Regions from separate parts of the Homo sapiens genome. Here regions 1, 2, 3 and 5 are each linked to region 4. The links come from fine-mapping of genetic effects on gene expression. A gene starts in region 4. Each other region holds a variant in brackets. All regions are shown on one strand. Distances are between the middles of the regions. Region 1 has its middle 35 kb from the start of AKR1B15. Region 2 has its middle 45 kb from the start of BPGM. Region 3 has its middle 18 kb from the start of AKR1B10. Region 4 holds the start of AKR1B1 (aldo-keto reductase family 1 member B). Region 5 has its middle 42 kb from the start of AKR1B15.

Evidence for each region. PIP is the estimated chance that this variant, and not a neighbour inherited with it, causes the effect.
Region 1: its variant is the best candidate, but not a certain one, in a credible set for the expression of AKR1B1 in whole blood (INTERVAL, PIP 0.88).
Region 2: its variant is the best candidate, but not a certain one, in a credible set for the expression of AKR1B1 in whole blood (INTERVAL, PIP 0.67).
Region 3: its variant is the best candidate, but not a certain one, in a credible set for the expression of AKR1B1 in whole blood (TOPMed, PIP 0.85).
Region 5: its variant is the best candidate, but not a certain one, in a credible set for the expression of AKR1B1 in whole blood (TOPMed, PIP 0.66).

Annotation. Positions count from the first base shown.
Region 1 is chr7:134,581,743-134,586,847 of GRCh38, reverse strand. No RefSeq gene overlaps it. Among named protein-coding and RNA genes, the nearest start is that of AKR1B15, 35 kb to the right of the region's middle. The variant G/A (reference allele first, on the strand shown) is at 2,723.
Region 2 is chr7:134,599,266-134,604,370 of GRCh38, reverse strand. No RefSeq gene overlaps it. Among named protein-coding and RNA genes, the nearest start is that of BPGM, 45 kb to the left of the region's middle. The variant G/T (reference allele first, on the strand shown) is at 2,317.
Region 3 is chr7:134,507,036-134,512,140 of GRCh38, reverse strand. No RefSeq gene overlaps it. Among named protein-coding and RNA genes, the nearest start is that of AKR1B10, 18 kb to the left of the region's middle. The variant T/C (reference allele first, on the strand shown) is at 3,071.
Region 4 is chr7:134,456,017-134,461,121 of GRCh38, reverse strand. AKR1B1 (aldo-keto reductase family 1 member B) reads left to right here and starts at 2,022. Exons shown (of 10, transcript NM_001628.4): 1 at 2,022-2,125. The coding sequence starts at 2,060. RefSeq lists a silencer at 2,223-2,412.
Region 5 is chr7:134,588,936-134,594,040 of GRCh38, reverse strand. No RefSeq gene overlaps it. Among named protein-coding and RNA genes, the nearest start is that of AKR1B15, 42 kb to the right of the region's middle. The variant G/A (reference allele first, on the strand shown) is at 2,410.

The DNA of each region.
Region 1 (5,105 bases), 130 kb before region 4:
AGCTGTATGCCTAAATTGGGAGGGACACCAGGGACAAGACTCCCTGGATTCATAGCCTAGATGCCTAAGGTTGCAGCATAGAACTTCCTTAGATCCCTTTGGAGATACAACTTGCTCTAATACTTGGGAGAGGAAGTGAAAGTCTGAAGCATTAGTACCTAGGAGGCAGGGATCGGAGGAAGTAGATTCAGAGGTAAGGAGAATTTTGGGGCTACGCTTTCAAGAAAGTCATGGTTGGGACCCAGGAGGTATGGGTCAGAAGGAGAGGTAGGGGCACACACATGGATGACTTTTGAGTAGAGACTTTTGACTGTGCCATGATCTTGACTGGCCAATGCCGGGAGTTCAGGACGACAGCTTTCTGCCTCTAGTCGACCCTTGGCTTCCCCAGGAAAATTGTGAAAGTGGAAGCTGGTTCCAGGCAGACCAATGCTCCCAACCCAGAAGGGTTGGGAGCTGTTAGCAAGCCTTTTCCCAGGAAGCCTCACACCTGAGTCTTTAGTCCAGCAGCCATGCTAATCATTTTTAACCGGCCGACAGGTGCCAGGTATTTTCCTCCAATTCTAAGGAAGGATAGGACAGAACAGCGAGCGAAAGTGGCCCAATATTATTCACTGCTTTAGAGAATCCCTGTACAGGCCACCAAATGTTACGGGTGGGTCTTTGTTCTTAGAACTCCCAAGATGGTGGCAGCCACTCCCAAGATGGTGGCAGCCACTCTCAAGATGGCAGCAAGCCTTTTGTTCTCTGACCTGGGATTCTTGGTCTCACAGATTCCAAGAGTGGAACCTTTGGCCATGTGGTGAGTGTTATAGCTCTATTAGAAGCCGTGGGTCATGGAAGAGAGTCATGGAACCCAGCGACTGGTGTTCAGCTCGATTAGGACAAACCTGGGCACTTAGCCACGCAGGAACAATGGTGAGCTCTAGCCCAAATGGGAGTGGCAATGGGCGCCTCACTGGATCAGAAATGCAGCAGACACCCTGCCTGATCCAGAGAGGTGGAAGTCAATGGAGGGTCTGCGACAGTGGCGTTCAGCAGTGGACGGTGAGCGAAAGCTCAGCTTGAGCCAGAACAAACATGGACCAGAAGAGTGTGCAGTTGCAAGATTTAATAGAGTGAAAACAGAGCTCCCATACAATGGGAGGGGACCCAAAGTGGGTTGCCACTCCCTGCTCGAATGCCTGGGTTTATACCCCGATCATTGTCCCTCCCACTGTGGTCTCAGGTGATATATGATTTGACTATTTCTTTACCTCCTGCTTTTAGCCTAATTTGTATTTTAGTGAGCCCTCTTTACTACCTGATTTGTTGGGTGTGAGCTGAGTTACAAGCCCAGTGTTTAAAGGTGGGTGCAATCACCTTCCCCAGCTAGGCTTAGGAATTCTTAGTCAGCCTAGGAAACCCAGCTAGTCCTGTCTCTCACCAGGAAAACTAATACAGACACTAATGGAGAAATAAAAACTAGAATAATGAGAATATTGCTATTTATAGGAAGAAAGCAAGGTTGTGAATTCTGCTTATCAGTAAATATAGAGGAACCATTATCTTTTTTTAGTCTTCACGATTATCCCAAGGTTGAAGCACTAGGGTATAGTTTTTTTCCAATCAAGACAGCCTTTAACTATACCCCAGGAGTCTGACATATAGGCTGCCTTTACCCCTGCTTTTCACTTGAGCTGTCAGCATCTCTTGGTTCATGGATAGCAGTACCATGGCTGTTCTCTGCTCACTGCTTCTCAGGACTTCTGAATGCTGTGTCCTAGTAGAAAGCAGATCCTGGGACTATATGCAAGCCATATTCAACTCACACTTAGGAAGGAATTGCTAATAAGAGCAATGCACCATTTTCTACCATGGAGTAGAACAAACAGAATTGAAAGGAGAGAATATTAGTGGTGCCTCAATTCCTATTTTACCTCTCACTATTAGACTTCAATGAGAGCAGAAGTAAAACTTCAATCATGAATTAAAGATTGACATTCTCCACATATCATCCCTGCCTCCAAAATGATTATCTCAGTTCCAGTTCAAGGATGTTATACAGTCTTTGCAATTTATGACTAGCCGTAGAGTTCATGAAATTACTTCAGATTATGTGAGTAGGCATTATGGGTTGTAACAATTAAGAAATCTAGCTTCAGTTTTTTTTTAAATCTGAAATTGGAGTTAAAAAGTAAAATTGGAGTAAAAACACTTCCCATCCATCTATCCTTCCAACTATCCTTCCATCCATCCATCCATCCATCCATCCATCCATCCTTCCTTCCCTGCTTCCATCCATTTATCCATGCCTCCCTCCCTCCATCTATCCATCCTTCCAACCACCCTTCTATCCATCCATCATTTCATCCATCTATCCCCAATCCCTCTATCCTTCTACCCATCCTTCCTTCCATTCATCCTTCCATCCATCCTTCCTTTCATCCATCCTTCCATCCGTCCTTCATGTTTCCATCCATCCATCTATGCCACCCTCCCTCCATCCATCCATTCATCCATCCATTGTTCCATCCATTCCATCTGTCCATTTATTCAACAGATATTATTGAGAATCCCTTCTCCCATAGAGCTTACATTCCAGTGGGTAGAAACAGGGTAAGCAAGCAAACAGTAAATATTTAAAATACATAACATATTGATAAATGCTAAGGAGAAGAAGAAAACACAGAAGGGCAAGAGGAAGTATCAGAGGAGATGGGTTAATTTTAAATAGGGTGAT[G/A]AAGAAAGGCCTCCCTGAGAAGATGATAAATCAGCAAAGAAATTAAAAATACAAGTCAGAGAATTATTCTAATATCAGAGGGCAGAAGATCCCAGGCAATGAGAATAGCAAGGGCAAAAGCCCTGGGGCACAAGCACCTCTCTTGTGTAATTTTTTTAGTAACGTTCAAGGTCCTCGTGGTCTCCACCAACTCTCCCTTACTTATCTGGGGGTTGATATTTTTCAACCAACAAAAGTGCTGGAAGGCAACACTATAAGATTTTAAGGGTGCAAAACTTTCATGAAATTTCTGGGAAAATGCTGACAACAAATGAGGAAAAACAAATGAACTAGGTAGAGTTTTAAATTAAATGTAATCAAATTCCACTGCATTGTACATTCAGAATATGTATTTTCTAAAATTGAAAGGCTTGTTAAATGAGAATAGTTTCAAGTAAAAGTGTCTCTTCCATTTGGTTTTCCCAGTGGATGTATAAAATAACTAATTGAGCTAAATCTCTGCTATTTTCTAAATCCTTAATGCCTCTCTTGATTGTAAAAGTGCATTTCGTATTGTGGAAATTTTGAAAATTATGTAAAAGAATAACAAAAAAAACCTGTTGCCATACAATATAGAAAAAAACCCTGTTAATATTCATATCTTTCTAGATATATTTTCCTTTTATTTCTAAGTTTTGTTGGTTTGATAGTGAAAAAAACTTATTTTAATTTGCATTCTTATTACTAGTCAGTACAATTTTTCATGTCATGTACTGGTCAATTTTTATGTACCAACTTTCTTTTTGGCATCTTAGAATTTTCTTATTGATATGAATAAGCTCTTTTGATTATATGAAAATTGCCAAATGGTTTTGTTCAAGTTTGTTTATCTCCTATTAGTTTGTTTGTTTTTGTTTTTGTTTTGAGACGGAGTCCCACTCTGTCGCCCAGGCAGGAGTGCAATGGCACAATCCCGGCTCACTGCAACTTCTGCCTCCTGGGATAAAGCGATTTTCATGCCTCAGCCTCCTGAGGCATGTGCCACCACACCCAGCTAATTTTTGTATTTTTATTAGAGGCAGGGTTTCACCATGTTGGCCAGGCTGGTCTCAAACTCCTGACCTCAAGTGATCCACCCTCCTCGGCCTCCCAAAGTGCTGGGATTATAGATGTGAGCCACCACTGCTGGTTAATTTTTGCATATTTTTATGTTCAGAATTTACATGTCTATAGTCATGCACACGCATTAAAGCAAAAAAAAAAAAAGGTTATTTCCAACAATCTTCACTCTTCAGGGTCTTTCAAATTTTACTGAAAACTATTTTCTACAGAAGCCTCTCTCATCTGTACATTTTAAACTCTAATGTACAGTTAAATCTCACAATAATGCAATAAGTAGTTAAATCTCACAATAATGCAAATTTGTTAATTTAATATTTCATATAGCAACAGTCTCACTATGTTGCCCAGGCTGGTCTCGAATTCCTGGCCTCAAGCGATCCTCCTGCCTCGGCCTCCCAAAGTGCTGGGATTACAGGTGTGAACCACCAGGACTGGCTGGGTCCAAATTTGTAATCATGTAAAGTGCAGAGTTGTTGCAAGGTTGTTGAAATGACTGGAGCAGCCCTGGACAGTCAGGCATTAAGGGGTCTGGCTGGGAGATCCAAATCCCTTTAGGTCCCAGTTATAGTTTGGCATCATCTGCCCAGCATTTGCCAGATCTCACTTAAATACAAGAGGGCAAGTCTAGCCCTCTGAACTACCTGAGCCCGGCAGGATGGTCACAGTGATTCCAGAATCTCCATGCTAGTTGCAACCCATTTTTCCAGCCCTCTCTTAGACAATGAGTAGAGAGAATACTTGAAACACAAGAGCTTCACTCCTTGCCTCCCTACTTCCCAGGACAAGCTCCCTTCCTTTTCCACACTGACCTTACTTACCATCTTCCCCTCTGTGGTTATTCCCCTTCTTTTCTCTTCATAAGGCAAATTCCCTACATTATCATAAGAGTTATTTAACACACACCTGTAGTGTATATCTTAGATTCTCTCCCCTTAATGGCAGCTTTGGTTTAGTTGATGATGATGGTGGCTTTATTTCTGAACAATTGAGACAAAATTGTGAATAAATTTTAGGATGGATTCACTGTATTTCTTACAGTTGTGACATTGAGGACCCCAAGGCCTGCAAAGTTCTCATTACTTGAGATATAAATGCTGAAAATATAATCAGATAACTGGCTGTGTGAGGTGGCCCATGCTTGTGATTCCAGCACTTTGGAAGGCAGAGGTGGGAGGATCATTGAGACCAGGAGTTCGAGACCAGCCTGGACAACATAGCAACATTGCAAGATCCTGTCTCTACAAAAAATAATTAGCAGGACATAATTAGTAGTCCCAGATAC
Region 2 (5,105 bases), 140 kb before region 4:
TGTATTAATTGAGGTTATGTAATTTAATTGATGTATCAATATTAGTAAACTAATAAATCAATTTTTAATAAATTGAATTTAAAAATGAATTTAATTTGTGGAATTTGAACTGTATCCATTAATTGGGGGTATTCATCAAAAACAATTGGGTGTAACATAGGAATATAAGACCTATATCAAATATTTGGAGGGCTTTCATTAGGAATAGGAAAAGACCCGTTCCGTGCCGTCACTGCATGCAGAATTGAGATCTACAAATGGAGGATAAAGGAAGATGGCATTTTAGCTGCACGTTAAGAAAGACTTGCTAAACACAAGATTTTCTCCTAAATATTCGTTGGGAAGTGAATTCCTGATCCCTAGAGGTGTTTAAACATTAGCCAGACTGTGTGTAATATTGAAGATCTAGAAGACCTCCAGTGCCTCTGGGCCCCACCAGCCTCGAGTCTATGATTCTGTAACTAGGCAACTTAACTTCAAAATGCATTTTAAACGTTTTTTTTCCTTTCTCTTGGATTTCAACATATAACCTTGAAGCAAACTGCAGAAGCCTTTTTCCTTAGCCTTAAAATGGACTCCACGTCCCTCTTTCTCACCGAATATAGTCCCTTCACATTTATCTAACTGCATGCTAGTGTCTAAAGGCACATAATTATTATGGGGCTAATTTTTAGGCAGACCAAGTCTGGAGACCCCGCTACAGAATTCCAGAGATGACTTCAAGGTGACTAGTCAACAACCCAGCCATTGTTAAGATGATGCCAGCCTGAGATCCAGGTGGCCTGGGACCCAAGACAGCCACCAGAGCAAGACACACAGGCATTGGAATCAGCACAATTCCTGCATGCCTTCCTTACCAAGTTTTCCCATTTTGAACTCTTGCTTTCCCCGCTAGATACAAAGCAGTTCCTTTGGATAGGAGGAATCCAGCAGCTTCCCCTTTACTAGTGTTGGTTAATAAAGTCACTTTCTTTCTACCAGACCTCGCTCTTGTTAATTAGACTCCGCAAGCAGCGAACATGCGTTTGGTTCCACTTCTAGACTGGCAGGCACATGCTAAACCTCCTAAATCAGCCACATCCCTTCTCCTGCAGCCTGAAGCCTACGGCTGCATGCTAGCCTTGGAGTTACCTTTTCTACCAGCCCTAGCTCACATCTTGCACAGAAAAAGGGCAGGGCTCCAGTGAGACAAAGCTGTTAGTTTTTCAGGTGGTAGAGCTTGCCGCTATGAGTGTGCTGCTTTGTACCTAGTGAATGCATAATGGGTGAAATTGCAGCTGATAATATGACGATGAAGCAAGTGTTTAAAGTCCTTGTCTGGATGCTTGGTTTCCGGCTTGTGGGTAGAACGGAACTAAGTTACAAAACATTAGGACACGCCAATTGCAGCAGGATTTTCTGCTTTAGAATATTAACTGTTTGTTTATAAATAAATCAAGTGAAGCTAAACGGACAGAAGCTGCCCCTTTAGTGTTGGAATCAGAGGAGACAAAAGGAGCCGAAAGTTGTATTTTCCCAAGATCACTTGTTCCCTCTGAGAGCTGAAGCAGAAATTAAGGAAGCAGATTCAAGAGTTCCAGTGCCTTTAGGGCTAGCTCCAAATTGTTGCCAAGAAAAAGTATAGGGTTCAGAAAAAGCCTCTTCTGACGTTAAATTATCTGAGAGGCAAGCAGAAGAGGGGGAACTTTATTTTTGGCAGATGTGGGAATATTAATACTTTAGGAAGGGTTGTAGTTTCTAACTTTACCAATTTACTAATTTTCTGATTGTGTACTTTTAAGAAAATACTTGGCATGTGGTTTCTTCTGAAGAGTATACATGGGAGATGTGGGACTTTTTTAAAATAACTTTTTTGGGACTTTTTTTTTTTTTTTTTTTTTTTTTACAATAACTAGCACCAGGAAAAGAGGTTCTTAAGAGAAAGAATGAGCTGGGGACATGTGGCTGTTTCTGATTCTCACAAGCCTGCTCTCCTCCAAGAGTCCACAGCCCTGGCCTTGGTGGGAGAGAGTGACAACGATGTATCTTGTACAAACAAAAGTCAAAATCCCAAATCTAAAGACAGGGTGAGCAAGGTGCATCTGCAAAGTCATGGTGCCGAGAACTCAGCCAGCAAACTTAACATTTGATCAGACCATATCTGGACGTGGAAATCCAAACTGCAGAGAACCAACCTGTGGAAGTCATTACAGTTTATTATAAAAAAAAAGTAGAACCTTAAATGTGTGTCTCAGGTGATGATTAGAGTTTGATAATGTTACTAAGACAATTAAAAAACCTAAGCTTGGGTGATTTTTGTTTTTACAGAAACCAAAA[G/T]GTAGACCCTGTATATTGATTAAGCGTTGAATTCCAGGAGAAACATGAATGATCAGTAAATATTCACTGCTTATGAAATGTTTTTAAAAACTGTTATAACCCCTGTTATTGCCACATAAAGGAAGGTCATTGTCTTTCTGTAACCCTGGGACCATGACAAAACTCTTGACATTTCTGTATACTTTTAAAAACATTTATCACCTTCTTAATATACTGTAGAAACAAATACTGTTTTTCTGTCCTTCTGAAATTCTGCTTTGCCATTTTGATACACTGATTGTCTGAGAACTACTCAGACAAGTTTGTTTTTGTTTCTGTTTTGAGACAGGGTCTTGCTCTGTGGCTCAGGCCGGAGTGCATGGTTATGCCTCACTGCAATCTCCACCTCCCGGGCTCAAGAGACCCTCCCACCTCAGCCCCCTGGGGTAGCCGGGATTACAGGCTGACACCACCATGCCCAGCTCATTTTTGTCTTTTTTGTAGATACAGGGTTTTGCCATGTTGCCCAGGCTGCTCTTAAACTCCTGGGCTCAAGAGATCCTCCCTCCTTGGCCTCCCAAAGTGCTAAGATTATAGGCGTGAGCCACCATGGCCAGCAAAACCAGTTTTATTACTCACATTGATTTAGTGACGTTTCTTCCCAGTTAACAATTTTTCCATTTTTGCAAACTGATTTGGTAAAGGGGACAGACCCTTATGTTTGGTGTTTTTTTTAATGTTCAACATAAAATAAAATGGATTTTAAAAAGAATATGTAAGATTCTTCCCCAAATCATTTCTTTTCAATTCTGCTTTGTATCTAGTTTGTCTTTTTTATTTTCTTTATTAACTAACTAATGATTCTTTTTTTCTCTTTTGGATAATTTCAGAAAAAAATTTCAGGAAAAATTGCAGAAATCGTACAAAGAACTTTTTTTCCTTAGTAATTTGAGAGTATTTTACCAACATGATACCCCATCACCCTTAAATGCATTAGTGTGCAATTCTTACGAAGACTTACACCTCTTACTATATTTAAACCATTGAAATGAGGAAATTAATTCTAATACATTACTATCATTTTGTTTCAGACATCATTAATTTTTTTTCAGTTGCCCCAGTAATATCCATTTTAGCCAAATGATCCATTTTAAAATTACATATTTCATTTATCATGTCTTTTTAATATTATTTGATTTGGAACCATTTCTCAGTTTTTATGATTTCATAATTTTGACTATTTTAAACACTACAGACCACTAATTTTGTGGGATTTATCTCATTGTGGGTTTGTCTGATGTTTCCTAGTGTTTAGATTCAAATTATACGTCTTTAGCAGAGATATCACAGATTTGAAGCCGGATTCTTCACACTGCATACTATCAAGTGGTACACAATTTCAATTTGTCCTATTACTAGTAATATTAAATTGATCACTTGATTAAGATTGTATGGTAGGCAGAATTTTAAGATGGCCCTATGACCTTGGCTCATGATATTACTCCCATGATGGTGTTATATTGCAAATGGACAATTACCGAAGTAGGCCTAATCTAAATAAATCCAGCCTTTAAAAGCAGAGAGTTTTTGAGAGCTGATGGCAGAAGTCAAAAATATTCGAGATGTGGCAGAGATTCACCTCCAGAGAAGCTCTACCTTGTTGAGATGGAGAAGACCCACAGCACAGAACTGTGTGATTGGCCTCCAGGAATGGAACACAACCACCATCTGACAGCCAGCAAGGAAATAGAGACTTTGGTCTAATTGTAGCAGGGAACTGAATTCTGGGAGAGGGATTCTTCCCCAAAGCCTCCAGAGAAGAGCCCAGCCTGGCCAACACCTTGATTGCAGCCTTGGGAGACCCTAGGCAAAGAACTCAGGGGGACTGCCTGGACTTCTAACTTACAGAACTATAAGACCATAAATGGGTTGTTTCAAGCTGTTATGTTTGTGGTAATTTGTCATGCAGCAATAGAAAACTAATACAAGTGAGATCTGCTAGTCTCTCAGTTGTAAAGTACCTGCTTTTAGTAATTAATAAGCATTTTGTAAAGAGGTACTTTGAGATGAGACAGATATCCTATTCCTCATCAAATGTTTACCCACTGGTTTCAGCATCCATTGATGTTTCTTGAATGTATATTAATTATTTATATGGGGGAGGCAGAGCAAGATGGCTGAATAGAAGCCTACACCATTCGTCCCCACAGCAGGAACACCACGTTTTAACAACTAACTGCATGCAAAAATACTTTCACAAGACAAGTACCCTAAAACTTAAAGTATAATAATAATAATAATAAAAATACTCTCACAAGAACCAAAAATCAGTGAGCAATCACATTACCTCATTTGAAATTCGTATCACTGAAAGAGACAGTGACGTGAGCAGGAAAGACAGACTTGAAGCATTGATGCCACCCCTCCCCCACCCCACGGCAGCAGCTGTGTACAAAGAATCTGGTCTCTTGGGAGAGAGAGAGTGCAGCAATTGTGAGGCTTTGCATTGAACTCAGAGTGGCCCTCTCATAGTGGAAATTAGATCCAGGCTGTATTCAGCTGATGTCTGCCCACAGACGGAGCATTTGGATTGGCCCTAGCCAAAGCGAAGTCACCCAGCCCAGCAATCAGAGCTTGAGTTCCAGCAAGCCTCGCCACTGTGGGCTGGAGTGCTCTGGGACCCTAAGTGAACTTGTGGGGCAGTCTGGGCCACAAGGACTGCAATTCTTAGGCAAATCCTAGTGCTGAGCTGGGTGCAGATCCAGTGGACTAGGGGGGCATGTGACCTACTGAGACTCAAAACCATACAT
Region 3 (5,105 bases), 51 kb before region 4:
CTGACCCTTATCTTCCCTACAAGAAAGGACCAAGGCAATAAATATACAGCTGAAATTTGACTGGAGTGCCAAAAGGAGAGCGATGGAGTGAAGCAGGGGAGTGGAGATGCTTCTGAGGTGGTTGGAGGCTCAGGAGGACAGGATGGAGGCACATGGCCTCCGCAGCCCCATCTCACCCACCTGGATCGGACTGGCCCAGAGATAAGAGGACTACTTCTTAGGGGAAAAAGGTAAACAGAAGAACCCCCTGTCACCCCTTGCCACTGCAAACACCTCCAGTCCTTACTATGGGAGAATCCCACATCCTGGTAAGCGCTGAGTCCAGTTTGGAAAGCTGCTGAGAATTCACTCAGCTGTGTCACTCCAGGTGAGGTGCATAAGGTGTGCACTCCGCCTTACGCCACTGAGCCATGGAGCCATCCTGAGAACAGACCTACTGCCGGAGTGTGCCCTGCTCTGGGGCCATAGTCATTGTGCCTCTCTAGCACTGGGGCTCTATCTTCATTCCACCAAACCCACATGGTACCCAACTGTACAGAGGCTGGTCCCAGGATTGGCTATGACTCTTGTCCTGCACAACAGTGAAACAAACCCATGCTATCTCCAATACAGCTGGAAGAATAACCTAGCAGTCTCACCCAGGATGAACCTGCTCTTGTGCCAGCCAAATAACTATGTGTTCTCCCCCAAGGAGAACAGGTCCTCAACCCACCAAGCACCTGACATGCCCCTAGGCCAGTGGAGCAGTTACGTGCAGATGTCCAGGGTCTGAAAAACAGGGCTTCAACACTACCCCCTCCAAGAACATAACCCTGGCTTGCACAAAGTCCCCACACCCACAATCAGGGCTTCAGAAACTTGGGAGGCTAACCGAGAAGCTGTGTGCCTATGTCCTGGGTCTGAAAGAAAGCTTTATGTGTCACCTGTGATAAACACACACCAAGGTCAGCAAAGAAGCTGTGCTCTCATGTTCCAAGGCTGAGAAGCCAGGCTCTTCCTTGGTGCTCAAAGCCCCTGAGGGATAGTTGTCTTTCTGCAGAATATTTGAGGGATATTTGAGGGACAAATATTTGAAGGATATTTGTCTTTCTGCAGAATAAGACATTTTGAGTAGTAGTCTCAGAGTTGCTTTGGTAAGAGAAGAGAAGGCTTCCCAGGCCCCGCAGATGGGTTTTTGAAGGTAGCTCTGGGCCCAGGGCCACATGAGACGCCCTTGGGGAAGAACAGCCATCACTGTGGGAGCTTGTGATAATGATGTAGGAATCTACGGCACTGACCTGAAAAACTGCACAGCCTTTATAAAGGCCACAGAGAACGGAATGAGCACCCATAGGAATGAGACATTCTGTGCTCTCAGGAAACAGATAACAGAGGCCAAGGCCTGCTGACGCCTCCCTAGGCTTTTTTTCCCTCATTCCCTCTGGCCCTGCCTTTATTCTCTACCTTACTTTCCCACTCCCTTTTTTACAGGTGAAAGAAAACAGAGCATAGGACAGGAAGAAATTCACTGTGTGAATTTCTCGTGAATTTCCTTAGGGACACACAAGCAGGAGGAGAAGGGGAGGAACTGATACCAGGGCCTGCCCTAGATCTAGCCCTGGAGGTATCTCTAAAATAAGTACATTCTCCAGCTCCTCTGTCTCTCTGTTGCTCTCACTCTAGCCCTCTCCCTTTTTCTCTGCATCCTTGTTCACGCATACTAGGCACTCTCTTGTTTCCTCTGTGCTAAGAAGCAATTATAATATAAACTCATGGCCAGGTGCGGTGGCTCACGCCTATAATCCCAGCACTTTGGGAGGCCGAGGCAGGTGGATCACCTCGGGTCAGGAGGTAGAGACCAGCCTGGCCAACATGGGGAAATGCCGTCTCTACTAAAAAATTAGCTGGGCATGGTAGCACATGCCTGTAATCCCAGCTACTCAGGAGGCTGTGGCAGGAGAATCACTTGAACCCCGGAGGCGGAGGTTGCAGGGAGCCGAGATTGCACCACTGCACTCCAACCTGGGTGACAGAGCGAGGCTCCATCTCCAATATATATATATACGCTCATTATATTCACAGGGCCTGCCTCAACCTACAGCTTCCCCCAGTCCTTCCTCGCTCCAGTACCCAACTTGCTGTTTCAGGTCTCCCAAGCCCAGACCCAGTCCCCATGAGGGGGGTTCTCTGCTCCCTTCTTTAATTAAGCCCATTGAAAACTTATTCATTTGGAGCTAAATGATCCATGAGTCCCTGATGAGCCAGACCCAACAGCTACCTCCCTAGGACATTTGCATTTCAAAGCTTGGAACTTGAACTGAAATCTTGAGAGCGAATTGGTAGAGAAGGTGAATTAATTGGTAGAGAGGGGGAAGAGGTTCTGTTATTCCAATTACAGAGACGTCTGCATTCTGAGGTAGAGTATATGGGGAGATGATACTAAGTATGTCCCATCCCAAGGGTATTTTCCTCTTCCTGTCATTTTCTTTTGAATTTTCCCACCTGAAAAAGTGCTGGACCTAGGATAGACAATCAATATTTCAAATAAAAAATAAGTTGAAATGTATAGTGTCATAAAACTATAGCTGTGATGGTGATGGTACGTTCTTGGGTATATATAGAAATAGAAAACAACTGATGCTATTGACATTGAATTATTGATAGGGCATTAGGGATGGTTGGTTACTCATCACTAGTACACATTGCCATCAGCATCATAACTATGATCATTGAATTTCAGAGTCTAACAATCTTTAGTCAGTGTGAGCACATTTTTATAAATAAGTTGAGCTTAATTTCCTAGAGAAAATTAGAGAAAAGTTTAGAGAGCTATTTTTTGGGCTTATGAGGTTCAGTATTGTATCTCATAAAATATGGAAGGCCTCACATACCCATAGTGAACAGAAGCTGTGGCCTTTGTTTCTGTGACTCACACTTTCAACTTTGCCTTGGTATTGTGCTGTTCCTACTAAGACTATAAGTTCTTCTTGCACAAGGACAGTCCCTAATGCTTCCTTGTTTCCCCCAGAGGGCCAGGGACATGTAATTATATAATAAGTGCAGTTCCCGGTGGAATGAATGAACCCAAAAT[T/C]GTCTGCTTCCTATGTTCTCCAGGAAGGGTCACTTTGGCCTGCTAAGGATAGAAAATGCCTAAAAGCAAGAGGTGTGAGGAAGAGGAGGCAGCCATTGTTATTGTCCACCACACGTCACATGTGTGCTCACACCATTGCTGTTGGTTTGAGGTTAGAGACTGCCTGGGCCATGAACAGGGTCAGTCCTACCATTGGTGAGGTCTCTGTAACTGTTTTTGCCTTCTCTGCCTGACAAGGTCCTCTCATCTATCCAGGTCTACCTTCCCCTGTGAAGTCCTTGATGTGGTTGGGCTGTATCCCCACCCAAAATCTCATCTTGAATTGTAATCCCCATAATCCCCACATGTCAAGGGCAGGACCAAGTGGAGGTAATAGGATCATGGGGGGTGGTTCCCCCATGCTGCTCTCTTGATCATGAGTGAGTTCTCAGGAGAACTAATGGTTTTATAAGCATCTGGCACTTTCCCTGCTTGCACTCACTCCTTCCTGCTGCCCTGTGAAGAAGGTGCTTGCTTCTCCTTTGCTTTCAATCTTCCATCATGATTGTAAGTTTCCTGAGGCCTCCCCAGCAATGCAGAACTGTGAGTCAATTAAACCTCTTTCCTTTATAAATTACCCAGTCTCAAGTATTTCTTCATAGCAGTGTGAGAACAGACTAATACAGTCCTTCTCAACCCCTGCAGGTAGAATCCGGGAGTTAATCACTAAATCCTTTGTGCTTTCTTGGCATTTTACTCAGACCACCTGTACCATTATACATTATATAAGTGTTTATCCTCTTCCTTGAGTCTGGAAGCTTCCTAAGAGCAGGAACCAGGCACAGTTACATTCTCTCACCAGTTTTTGTGAAGATAGTATTATTTGATGAGTAAAGAATTAATTAGTAAATGAACAGATACAGTTCCTGCGGCAAGAATGGGTGAAAATGAGAGAGACCACAGGTACTTTTCCAGATGACCTTTAAAGGCCTTACAGAAGGAAACCAGGAAGATGTTGGCAAGCCATATAAGTGGTCATTCTTCAAAAGCAAAAATACTTGAGGTAGATACACCTTGTCCTTTTTAATAAAACCTGTGCTTCTTGATGGACACAGCCTGTGTCTAAATTTCAGTATGGCATCTTGATGGCTCTCCTAATCACTTCTGACTTGTATAGCATTCATCTTATGGGTCAGACCTAGCACAGCATGTTCAAAGACTTGTTCACAGGTGAGCATAGCACATGATATTTAAGAACATCTTCCTCTTCCTCTGCCAGTGCCTGTCTCCAAGTGATGCACCAGAGTGGTTCATCAGTTCTTCAAAATGAAGACAGTGTGATCCTTTGGGCAGGAGCTGACTTGGAGCCAAACCTCCTTGGATGGCCCCAAGACTTATTGAAGTAGAACCTTGTCACTGGGGATGTCTTTGTTACTGAAAATAAATGCCCTCCTAGGAGGAACATTTACACGCAGCCAGGCCCAATTCTTCCCATTGCTGGAACACCAGATGCTGAGCAGGACTATGACAGAAGTCTCAGGATGCCCCTAGAAATGCTCGGCTGCAACTTCCAGAGGGAAGATGGATTGGCCAGGCTCAGGATGGCCCAGGGAAACACTGTTCCAAAAATTGCTGTGATTTATTCACTGACAATTGTTTAGGTATAGAATAAAGGTTAAAAGCTTGGGACAAGCCAGGGGTGATAAGGAACATGAATCTGTTTTCGTCTGTGAGGGCTGCTATAATAAAATACTTCAGACTAGATAATTTATAAGGAACAGAAATGTATTCTTACAATTCTGGAGGCTGGAAAGTCCAAGATCAAGACCCCTGCAGATTCAGCATCTAGTGAGGGCTTGCTTTCCATTTCAAAGATGGTGCCTTCTTGCTGTGTCTTCAGATGGCAGAAAGGGGCAAGGGAGCTTGCTTGAACCTCTTTTAAAAGGGCACTAATCCCATTCATGAAGGTGGAGTCCTCATAACTTAATCACTTCTCAAAAGGCTCCACCTCTTAATACTATCACGTTGGGGATTAGTTTCTAACATATAAATTTTT
Region 4 (5,105 bases):
TAGGAAAAATTCCCATGATGGGAGATTACTGGTTCAGAGCATGTTAAGATTCCAATTACTAGAGTGTTTCTCAGGAGGATTCCATTGAAGGTTTTTTTCCCTTTTTCAAACAAAATTTTGATATGTATACTTATCAAAAGATGGGAGATCAAAAATCTTGAGATCAAAAATTTTGGTATGTGTACATTTTACAAAGATTACAGAGGCAATGGGGGATGTTAGGGGGCTATCACAATAGCATGTCCCAACTAGAGTGCTATTGTTGCTATAGAAATTCCACTGATACAACTTTTCATGTCTGCATGGCCCAGCCAAAATATTCTGGGTTTATTTATTTATTTTACAGACAGGGTCTTGCTATGTTGTCCAGGCTGGTCTCTAACTCCTGGGCTCAAGCAGTCATCCCACCTCAGCCTCCTGAGAAGCTGAGACTACAGGTATCACTCCAGCTTTAGACACAGTTATAACTTCATGCAATCAAGCTGTATACTCAATTATTATCAAACCAACAACAAAGCCTCTGATATTGAGTCCATGTCCCTAACAGACGACCCTTCTGTGTGTACCAACCTGGCCACTCAAGGTGTATCATTTTCACAAGAGATTAGCTCTTTGGATTTGGACCCAGGAGGTTCAATTGGCAGAGCAACCTCCAAGTCAAGAGGACTCTCATGGAGGAAGGAACTTGCTGTTTTACACAAAGCAAGTTCCCAGCTTTAGGCTCAAGTTCAAATTCTATTACTTGGGGACAAATGAATTTGCCCAATAGCAACAATTTTTACAAAAGTTACATGGAAAAATATCTGGGCTAGTCTGTTCTGTATAAATTTTTCCAGGAGGGAGCACTTTTAAAGAAAGCACCAAATGGAAAATCACCGGCATGGAGTTTAGAGAGACCTGGTGCTTGAGTCACTACCAGGCAGATGGAGTTCCCAATCTTGCATAATTAGGGGAAAGATCGGAGGGTGATGGAGCAGAAAGAGCAGTTGGGGTGAGGTAGAGTATCATGAAGAGAGGTTGTTGGAAAGAAACCAAAATTGTCTTCAAGGATCTTCAAGTGACTTTTCTTAGGCTATCTTGGAAAAATGTGTGTTTCTACCTGCCAATTAGGGTGATCAATTTACTATTTTGTACCTTCTAATTTGAAATACTGGAAGCTACAATATTAGAGTCAACTTTTTCTTCTGTGGTTTTCTGTCTGTTCACTTTTCTTCCTCTAGAGAGTTTTGATAAGTTACTGTACTGGAACTTACTGCTTTGATAGAGTCTCACTTTCCAAAGACTGATGAAATTTGTCTTACTGATTCTGAATGGACAGCCTTACTTTCCAAATTCTTCTGAGAGTTCTGGATCAAGCCCATCAAGGCTTTCTAACCTCAAGAACATCAAAGGATGCTGGCTTTTGGTGGAAGGCTTGCTGAACCACACCTAGTATGCACAGACACAGCTAACACCTAGAGTGGGGTGCAAAGAGAGATCTAGAAGGCTACAAAAAGTCTGGGCAAACCCATATTTTGTGAAGGTGCTTTGCAAAAGGATTGCAAGCCATTTTTCTGGCATGCACCTTTGTCTAAGAACAAAGTGCGGTAAACTATATGTGTAGTCAGTATGATTCACATAGATTAAGGACAAGGTATTCGTCAGATTCCCAAAGAGCATCAAACTGGGGTTGGACAACAAAGGCATTCTTCTGGGCTCTTAATGAAACCAAAACTTATTTCTAGTCTATGTATTTATGGGATGCCTGTTATTTTCGCTAAAGCATTCGCTTTCCCACCAGATACAGCAGCTGAGGAACTCCTTTCTGCCACGCGGGGCGCGGGCGAGCGTTGGGGGCGGAAAGAATCCGCTGCCACTAGGACCAGGCGGAAGAAGCATCCCCGCCGACCCTTGGGGAAGGCCGCCGCGGCACCCCCAGCGCAACCAATCAGAAGGCTCCTTCGCGCAGCGGCGCGCCAACCGCAGGCGCCCTTTCTGCCGACCTCACGGGCTATTTAAAGGTACGCGCCGCGGCCAAGGCCGCACCGTACTGGGCGGGGGTCTGGGGAGCGCAGCAGCCATGGCAAGCCGTCTCCTGCTCAACAACGGCGCCAAGATGCCCATCCTGGGGTTGGGTACCTGGAAGGTAGGTGCTCGTGGGGGCGCGGGCCCGGGGCTCGCCTCACACTCTCCGCGCGGCCTGTATTGGCGAGGGACCCCGAGTGACCCTGAGCAGCTCGCCCCGCGGACGCCCGGCGTGCTGGGAGCCACGCGCGGGCTTGCAGGGTCCCCAGCGGGCTGGGGTCGGCCTTGCAGAGACCGGGGGCCTTGGCTCCCCGGGTTGGCCCTGGGCGTCAGGGCAGCATCCTGCGAGTGGGGTTTGGGAGCAGCTCACGGGAGCCCCCGCCCTACCGCGGGCAACCCTTGATGGGCGGCCCACCAGTCCGCATTTTGGGTCCTAGCGGGCGCCCCAAGCGGCACAACGCGAGAGGGAGGCGGGGAAAGTGGGCTTCACAGACCGGTGGACCTCGGGCGCAGACAGGGACGTGGAGCCGTCGGCAAGGTGTGGGAGCGCAGACCCAGCCTCCTTTCCCTCGAGGCACCTGTAGCCCGGTTGCCTCACTTGTAAATAGTTGGTCTCAATCGTTTCGATTCTTGCCCTCCCTGAGGAATAAGCATCTCAAGCCGGTAGAGGGCAGAGAATTAGGTGGCGCGAGTTTGCCCGGACCCAGCTGTTAACAAGGCGCAGTGCGGAGCTCCTCGGCCAGGCGCCGCCTCGGGGTGCCCTGGGTCTGGAACTCGGGAGAAAAATCTGGGCACCCCGTAGCTAGTTGATAATTCAGGAGGCGCCAAGGTTAGCATTTTCCCTGTAAAACCTCAACACCACACAGCGTCCCCGAGAAGTGCCTAGCCGGATGAGAATGACAATAGGACATGAAACATCATAGGATATGAAAAATGATAATATGATATGAAAAACCAAAAATAATAGCCTGAGCCTGATTATCTGAAAATTGAGCAACAAAGGTGGTGGTATGGGAGCTGAGGCAAAACCTAGAATTTTTAACCTTCTAAGTATTGCATATTATATTCCACAGCCATAACCTGGGTTTCTCAGTTTCTGTTTTTGTTGTTTGCTTGTTTGTTTGTGACAGGGTCTCGTTGCCCAAGCTGGGGTGCAGTGGCACAATCATGGTTCATTGCAGCCTGGAACTCCTGGGCTCAAGTGATCCTCCTGCCTCAGCACTGCGGGTAGCTGGGACTACAGGCGCTCACCACCACACCTGGCTAATCTTTTTTCTTCCCCGCAGAGACAGTCTCCGCTTGTTGCTTAGGGTGATCTCCAATTCCTGGGCTCAAAGCGCTCCTCCCACCTCGCCTCCCAAAGCTACAGGTGTGAACCATCTGGCAGGCCCACGTCCCAGGTTTTTCTCTTAAAATTTGAATATGGGCCTGGGCGTTGGATATTTACACACAGACAAGGGAAGAAAACAACAGAAAGAACTGAGTGAACTGTGAGATGTTTGAAATAGGACAGAAGAGTTTACATGTACCCTAAAACCTGCTGTTGAAAATTAGTAAATATAAGGTAAGAAAAAGGTCATTTGCATCAGGGAGAGTGTTTCTTGGCCAGAATGATCAGGGTACGTGATTTGTTTCCTCCAAAAACTCCAGTGGTGTCTCTAAGGTTGTAATTGAATTACAACCATGACACCAAGCTAATTTCCATCTGTTGCATGTTATGCTCTTGGAATGGATGCAGAAGGATGCTTTCTTGGCAATAGCAAATACTTTCTAAGCATGATGCAACGCACAGATATATACATGTAACTGGAATAAAAATTACTTAACAGTACTTAACCTATGTAGGCTGCATTTCAATATTTTTTTCTATTCCATTTTTCCAAAAATTATTGTCATACCTCCAGAAGCTAGTTTTGTGACCCATCATTTGAAAATCACTACTCTAGGGTAAATAAGGAGTAAAAGTTTATTTTTTTTTTTTTGAGACAGGGGCTCAGTGTCACCCAGGCTGGAGTGCAGTGGCATGATCATGATTCACTGTAGCCTTAACCTCTTGGGCTCAAGTGGTCCTCATACCTCAGCCTCCCAAGTAGCTGGGACCACAGGTGTGTGCCACCACACTCGGGTAGTTTGTTTTTAATTTTTTGTAGAGACAGGTTTCCCTATGTTGTCCAGGCTGAGGAGTAAAAGTTTATGAAAGAGGGTTTCAGATTATTCACTTGAGCACTCAATGCCCCAAAAAGCTATGTATTTGTTTAAGATAACATCACATCATAACATCTGTACATTTAGGTTATGCATTCCAGTAGACAGAGTTCATTGAGAAATTGGATAATGTCTGCTTCATTCATTACTATTTCTAGCACTTCTCACAGTGCCTGGCAAATATAGGAGTAGGTATCCAAAAGTTATGTGTTGAATTCATATGAAGAAGTAAAACGACTTTAGAGATAGCTGTATGGTGAAAACGCCCACTTGTATTCCTGTGGATGAGGAGATCAGGTTGGTGTAGAATTGTACGGTGGGGGCAGCGGGGAATGGTGGGTCAAAGTAATGGTATAAGGATGGACTTGGAATCAACTTCCTTTTTTTTTTTAATGACTTAAAACCTTTCCCTGGGGCCGGGCGCGGTGGCTCACACCTGTAACCCCAGCACTTTGGGAGGCAGAGGCGGGCAGATCATGAGGTCAGAAGATAGAGACCGTCCTGGCTAACATGGTGAAACCCCGTCTCTACTAAAAATACAAAAAATTAGCCCGGCATCGTGGCACGCACCTGTAGTCCCAGCTACTTGGGAGGCTGAGGCAGGAAAATCGCTTGAACCCCAGATGTGGAGGTTGCAGTGAGCCGAGGTCCCGCCACTGCACTCCAGCCTGGGCGATGGAGCAAGACTCCATCTAAAAAAACAACCAAACAAAAAAACCTTTCCCTTGTATGTGTGTATGTATTCTTTCACAGATGCTCGACAGAAGATGTGATCCTTTGCCTGTCTTTGTGACAGCTGGAGGAGGCCCTGCAGGCAGGTGCAGTTCCTTATTCTCCTGGGTCTTCCCATGCCGTAGCGGCTGTGTTGTACCTTTCAGACCCTCAGCAGGGCTCTG
Region 5 (5,105 bases), 130 kb before region 4:
AAGTCATGGTGCTGGGGAAGCTGCCAACACTCTCAGACACAACTGAGAATGCTTTGCTTTGGATAAAACAATGAGAATCCAGGGAGACTGGAGAATGAATATGTACAGAAACAAACAGGCTACTGAGAAGAGCAGTGGCTAAATATGAATCAGATTATATCAAGAGATGCTGTTTTAGCTACTTAGGTAATGAATGAATGAGAAAGTAAGTTCTGATAAAAAATGTTGGCTGAGTACAGTGGCTCACGCCTATAAGCCCAGCATTTTGGTAGGCTAAGGTGGGCAGATCACTGGAGGTCGGGAGTGGGGCACAAGTGCCACAAGCCCTGGGGCACAAGCACCAGCCTGGCCAACATGACAAAACCCAATCTCTACTAAAAATACAAAAATTAGCCGGGCATGGTGGCACACACCTGTAATCACAGCTACTCAGGAGGCTGAGGCAGGAGAATGGCTTAAACTCAGAAGGCTGAGGTTGCAGTGAGCCGAGATCATGCCACTGCACTCCAGCCTGGGCAATAGAATGAGATTTTGTCTCAACAAACAAACAAATAGACAAAAGTCCCTAAGTATATACTCATAAATATTGAGCATTCAACTACAAGCAGGACAATGTGTCAGACCCTATATTGGGTGGAATCATGTCCCCCCAAAGTCCATGTCCACTCAGAACCTCAGATTGTGACCTTATTTGAATATAGAGTCTTTGAAGATGGAGTTAGTTAAATTAAGATGAGGGCATTCTGAATTAAGGTGGATCATAAATCCAATGACTTGTGTCCTCATAAGAAGGTCATGTGAAGGCAGAGGCAGAAATCAGAGGGAGGCAGCTACAAGCCAAGGAACCCCAAGAATTGCCAGCAACCACCAGATGCTAGGAAGAGGCAAGAAGGATTCTTTCCTGGACACTTCGGAGGGAGTATAGCCCTGATGACACGTAAATTTTGGATTACTGGCCTCCAGAATTATGCAGGAATAAATTTCTGGTGTTTTAAGATTGTGGTAATTTGCTACAGCCACACTAGTGTTATGGGGTGGGTCTTTGTTCCTAGAGCTCCCAAGATGGTGGCAGCCACTCTCAAGATGGCAGCAAGCCTTTTGTTCTCTGACCTGGGGTTCTTGGTCTCACAGATTCCAAGGAATGGAACTTTGGGCCATGTGGTGAGTGTTATAGCTCTATTAGAAGCCGTGGGTCATGGAAGAGAACCATGGAACCCAGTGACTAGTATTAGGCTTGATTAGGATGAACCCAGACACTTAGCCACACAGGAACAATGGCAAGCCTCTAGCCCGAATGGGAGCGGCAATGGGTGCCTCACTGGATCAGAAATGCAGCAGACCCCCTGCTGGACCCAGAGAGGTGGAAGTCAATGGAGGGTCTGCGACAGTGGCATTCAGCAGTGGTGGACAGTGAGCAAAAGCTCAGCTTGAGCCAGAACAAACATGGACCAGAAGAGTGTGCAGTTGCAAGATTTAATAGAGTGAAAACAGAGCTCCCATACAATGGGAGGGGACCCAAAGCGGGTTGCCACTCCCTGCTCGAATGCCTGGGTTTATACCCCGATCATTGTCCCTCCCACTGTGGTCTCAGGTGATATATGATTTGACTATTTCTTTATCTCCTGCTTTTAGCCTAATTTGTATTTTAGTGAGCCCTTTTTACTACCTGATTTGTTGGGTGTGAGCTGAGTTACAAGCCCAGTGTTTAAAGGTGGGTGCAATCACCTTCCCCAGCTAGGCTTAGGAATTCTTAGTCGGCCTAGAAAATCCAGCTAGTCCTGTCTCTCAGTCCCCACTCTCAACAGGAAAACCCAAGTGCTGTTGGGGAGGTTGGCTGACGACCGCTCTAACTGCTTCCTGCTGAATTGGGGTGTAGCAGGGGTTGTGCAGTTGAGATTTCCTCGGGAGGGGTGCCTTCAATGTCATTAACATCGGAGCATGGGCTAGCTGGCCAGTCCAGGGGTCCACGGTAGATCTTAGTCATGCACTGCATCTGGTGCTCCATTTGAAGAACCATTTGTAGTTTTACAGCTTTGATTCTGGAAGAGACAAACTTAACAAGGAGGTTAAAGGTACAGGGATTGAAATGTAGGCCTGAAGTGCAGGGGCATATGGGTGTCGGCCGTGAAAGTGGGGTTTCCTTTAGAAAAACTCCTATACTATGGGGCATTGATATTTCCAGGAAGCCACATTCTCCGCAGAAGCTCTTGGTGAGGGGAGCTACTGGTAGTACAGTGGCATGGAGGAGGTGCAGTGAGAGTAAAAGGGGATAAGAGAACAGTAAAGAGAAAAATATGAAAAGGGAGGGCCATGGGGATCTATGATTCAGTTACTTTCCTCACAGTTGTCACTTGAAGAGCAGGCACAGATCCTCTAGAGGTTCACAGGAATAGCTAGTGTTGTCTCCTG[G/A]ATTTTCGGGTTCTTTTGACAGTATCCAGAGTTTGACTCAAGTGTGATGTATCCAAGACTCCACTCCAGCCACTTTAACCATGGTTGAGGTACATAAAATGAAGGGTAGTGTCCTTCCCAGGATGTGTCTAGGGACAGGGAATTAGCAGGAAGGGACTTGACTAATACCATGTCACCAGGGTAGAATAGTTCCTTTCCCTCCTCTCAGGGACAGGCTCCTTGTAATGTTTTAAGAACTTGTTGATATTTGTCTAAGGAGGTGATGCCTGCAACTAAGTTGGCCATCTCTCAGTCGAGCACAAGTTATTGGTTAGGAAGGTCCATACAGCATCTCATATGGCTAAGTCCCACTTTTTGGGGAGAGTTTAGGATTCTTAGTAAGGCTATAGGCAACAGAGCAGGCCATGCAAGGTGGGTTTCTTGGGTTAGCTTTTTTAGATGTTGTTTGAGTGTTTCGTTCATTTTCTTGACTTTTCCTGAGGATTGTGGCCTCCAGGGGCAGTGTAAGTGATATTGTATGCCTAACACCTGGGATAGTCCCTGGGTTACTGCAGCCTTGAAAGCAGGGCCATTGTCACTCTGTAAGCCTCGGGGAAGTCCAAATCTAGGAATTATTTCATGAATTAGTGCCTTTATTACCTCTTGGGACTTTTCTGTCCTACAAGGGAAGGCGTCCGCCCAACCAGTGAAAGAATCTACCCAGACTAGTAGATACTGAAATCTCTGAGATTTGGGCATGTGGGTAAAACTTAGTTGCCAGTCTTCTCCTGGGTAATGGCCTGTTCTTTGTTCTCCTGAAGGAGCTTGGCGATAAGGCAGGGGATTGTTTCTTTGGCACATTTCACAGGCCCTGACTATCTGCTTGATAGTTTTGAAAAGGCCTGGTCCAGTAAATAATGATATGGCCATCTGATGGGTGCTATCAATGCCTAAGTGAAAGGTCTGGTGAAGGGTTTTAAGTAATTCACATTGGTTAGCTGCAGGCAAAAGTATTTTTCCTTCTTCAGTGGCTAGACATCCTGAGGGGAGGAAACTATGTCCTTGTGAGGTTCCCCCTTCTATTTCTTCTGCTGAGTACTGGGGCTTGGTTTCCTGGAGGGGATTACCCCATACTAGGGGTCCTTCTGTAAGCATTTCTAATGGAGGGTCCCACCTTGCAGCTCTTTTGGCTTCAATATCCACTTGGCAGTTCCCTTCTATTTCCCTTTCCTTTCCTTTCTGATGACCCCAGCAGTGAAAGACTGCCACCTCTTTAGGTTTCTGTACAGCCAATAATAATCTCCTAATGGCTTCCTGATGTTTGATAGGTGTTCCCTTGGAAGTTAGGAATTCCCTTTCTCTCCATATTACTGCGTGGGCATGGAGGACTAGGTAAGCATACTCAGAGTCTGTATATATGTTCACCCTTTTTTCTTCTCCTAATTCTAGTGTATAATGGCCCCTACTTTTGCTAGGATGTCTCTCCCTAACAAAGGAATGGGGCTTTCAGGCATAATTAGAAAGCCATGTGAAAAGAGTAAAGTTCCCCAGTCACAGCCTAGTGGCTGGGAGAAGTATCTAGTGACTGCCTGTCCTAGGACCCCTCGGACAGTGACAGAACTGGAGGACAGTTGTCCAGGACAGAAGAGTAAGACTGAGAAGGCTGTGCCAGTGTCCAGGGGACAGTTAACCTCCTGGCCTTCAATGATCAAGCATACCCGGGTCTCTATGAGAGTGATGTCATGGGCTGGCACTTGCCCCAGCCACCCTCAGTCGTCCTGCTGCTGGATCATCTGGTTAGTGGCTTCTGATTCAGAGGATCTTCATCCCCTGGGGCAGTGAGCCTTCCAGTGACTCCCTAGATATAAGGGGCATGGACAAGGGGGTGGCTTATTTCTATTCAGACATGGACAAGGGGATGGCTTATTTCTATTCAGACAATCTTATTTAAAGTGTAATTGTAAGCCTCACTGGAAGCAAGCCCCATTAAGCATTCAATTTGCCCAGCCTTTCCCTGTTCCAGAGCCTCCAAGGTCTGCTTGCCTGAGGGCCATGACTAAAGTGGTGGCCTTTTTCTTATCCTGTTTGTCCAGTTCTGCCTGCTCCTCCTGATCTCTATTATAAAAAACCGAGGTTGCCAAGTTCAATAGGGTTTCTTAGTTTTGCTCTGGGCCTAAGGCAGACTTTTGAAGTCTTTTCTAATGTCTGCAGCTGACTGAGTGATAAACTTATCCTTTAAGATTAGTTGGCCTTCAATAGAGTCAGGTGACAGAGAGGTATGCTTCCTCAGTGCCTCCGATAGTCTCTCCAGAAAGGCAGTAGGATTTTCTTCCTTTTCCTGTGTTATAGTGGACCTCATTGAATAATTCACAGGCCTCTTCCTAGTTTTCCTTAATCCTTCTAGCACGCAAGTTAGCAAATGTCTGTGGCAACATTCTCCATGTTCTTATTCTGCATCCCAATGAGGGTCTACACTGGGAACTGCCTGGTGGCCTGTGGGGAATTGTTCTCTTTCCTCTGTTGTCATCCTATCATTGACCTGACTGAGAAACCAGAGATTGCCAAACTCTTGCGCTGCAGTTATGGCAGCACTTCTCTCATTTGGGGTTAGTGTCTGATCTAGCAGTAACATTATATCTCTCCATGTGAGATCAAAGAATTGTCCTAACCCTTGTAAGACATCAATATAGCCATCAGGGTTATCTGAGAATTTACCT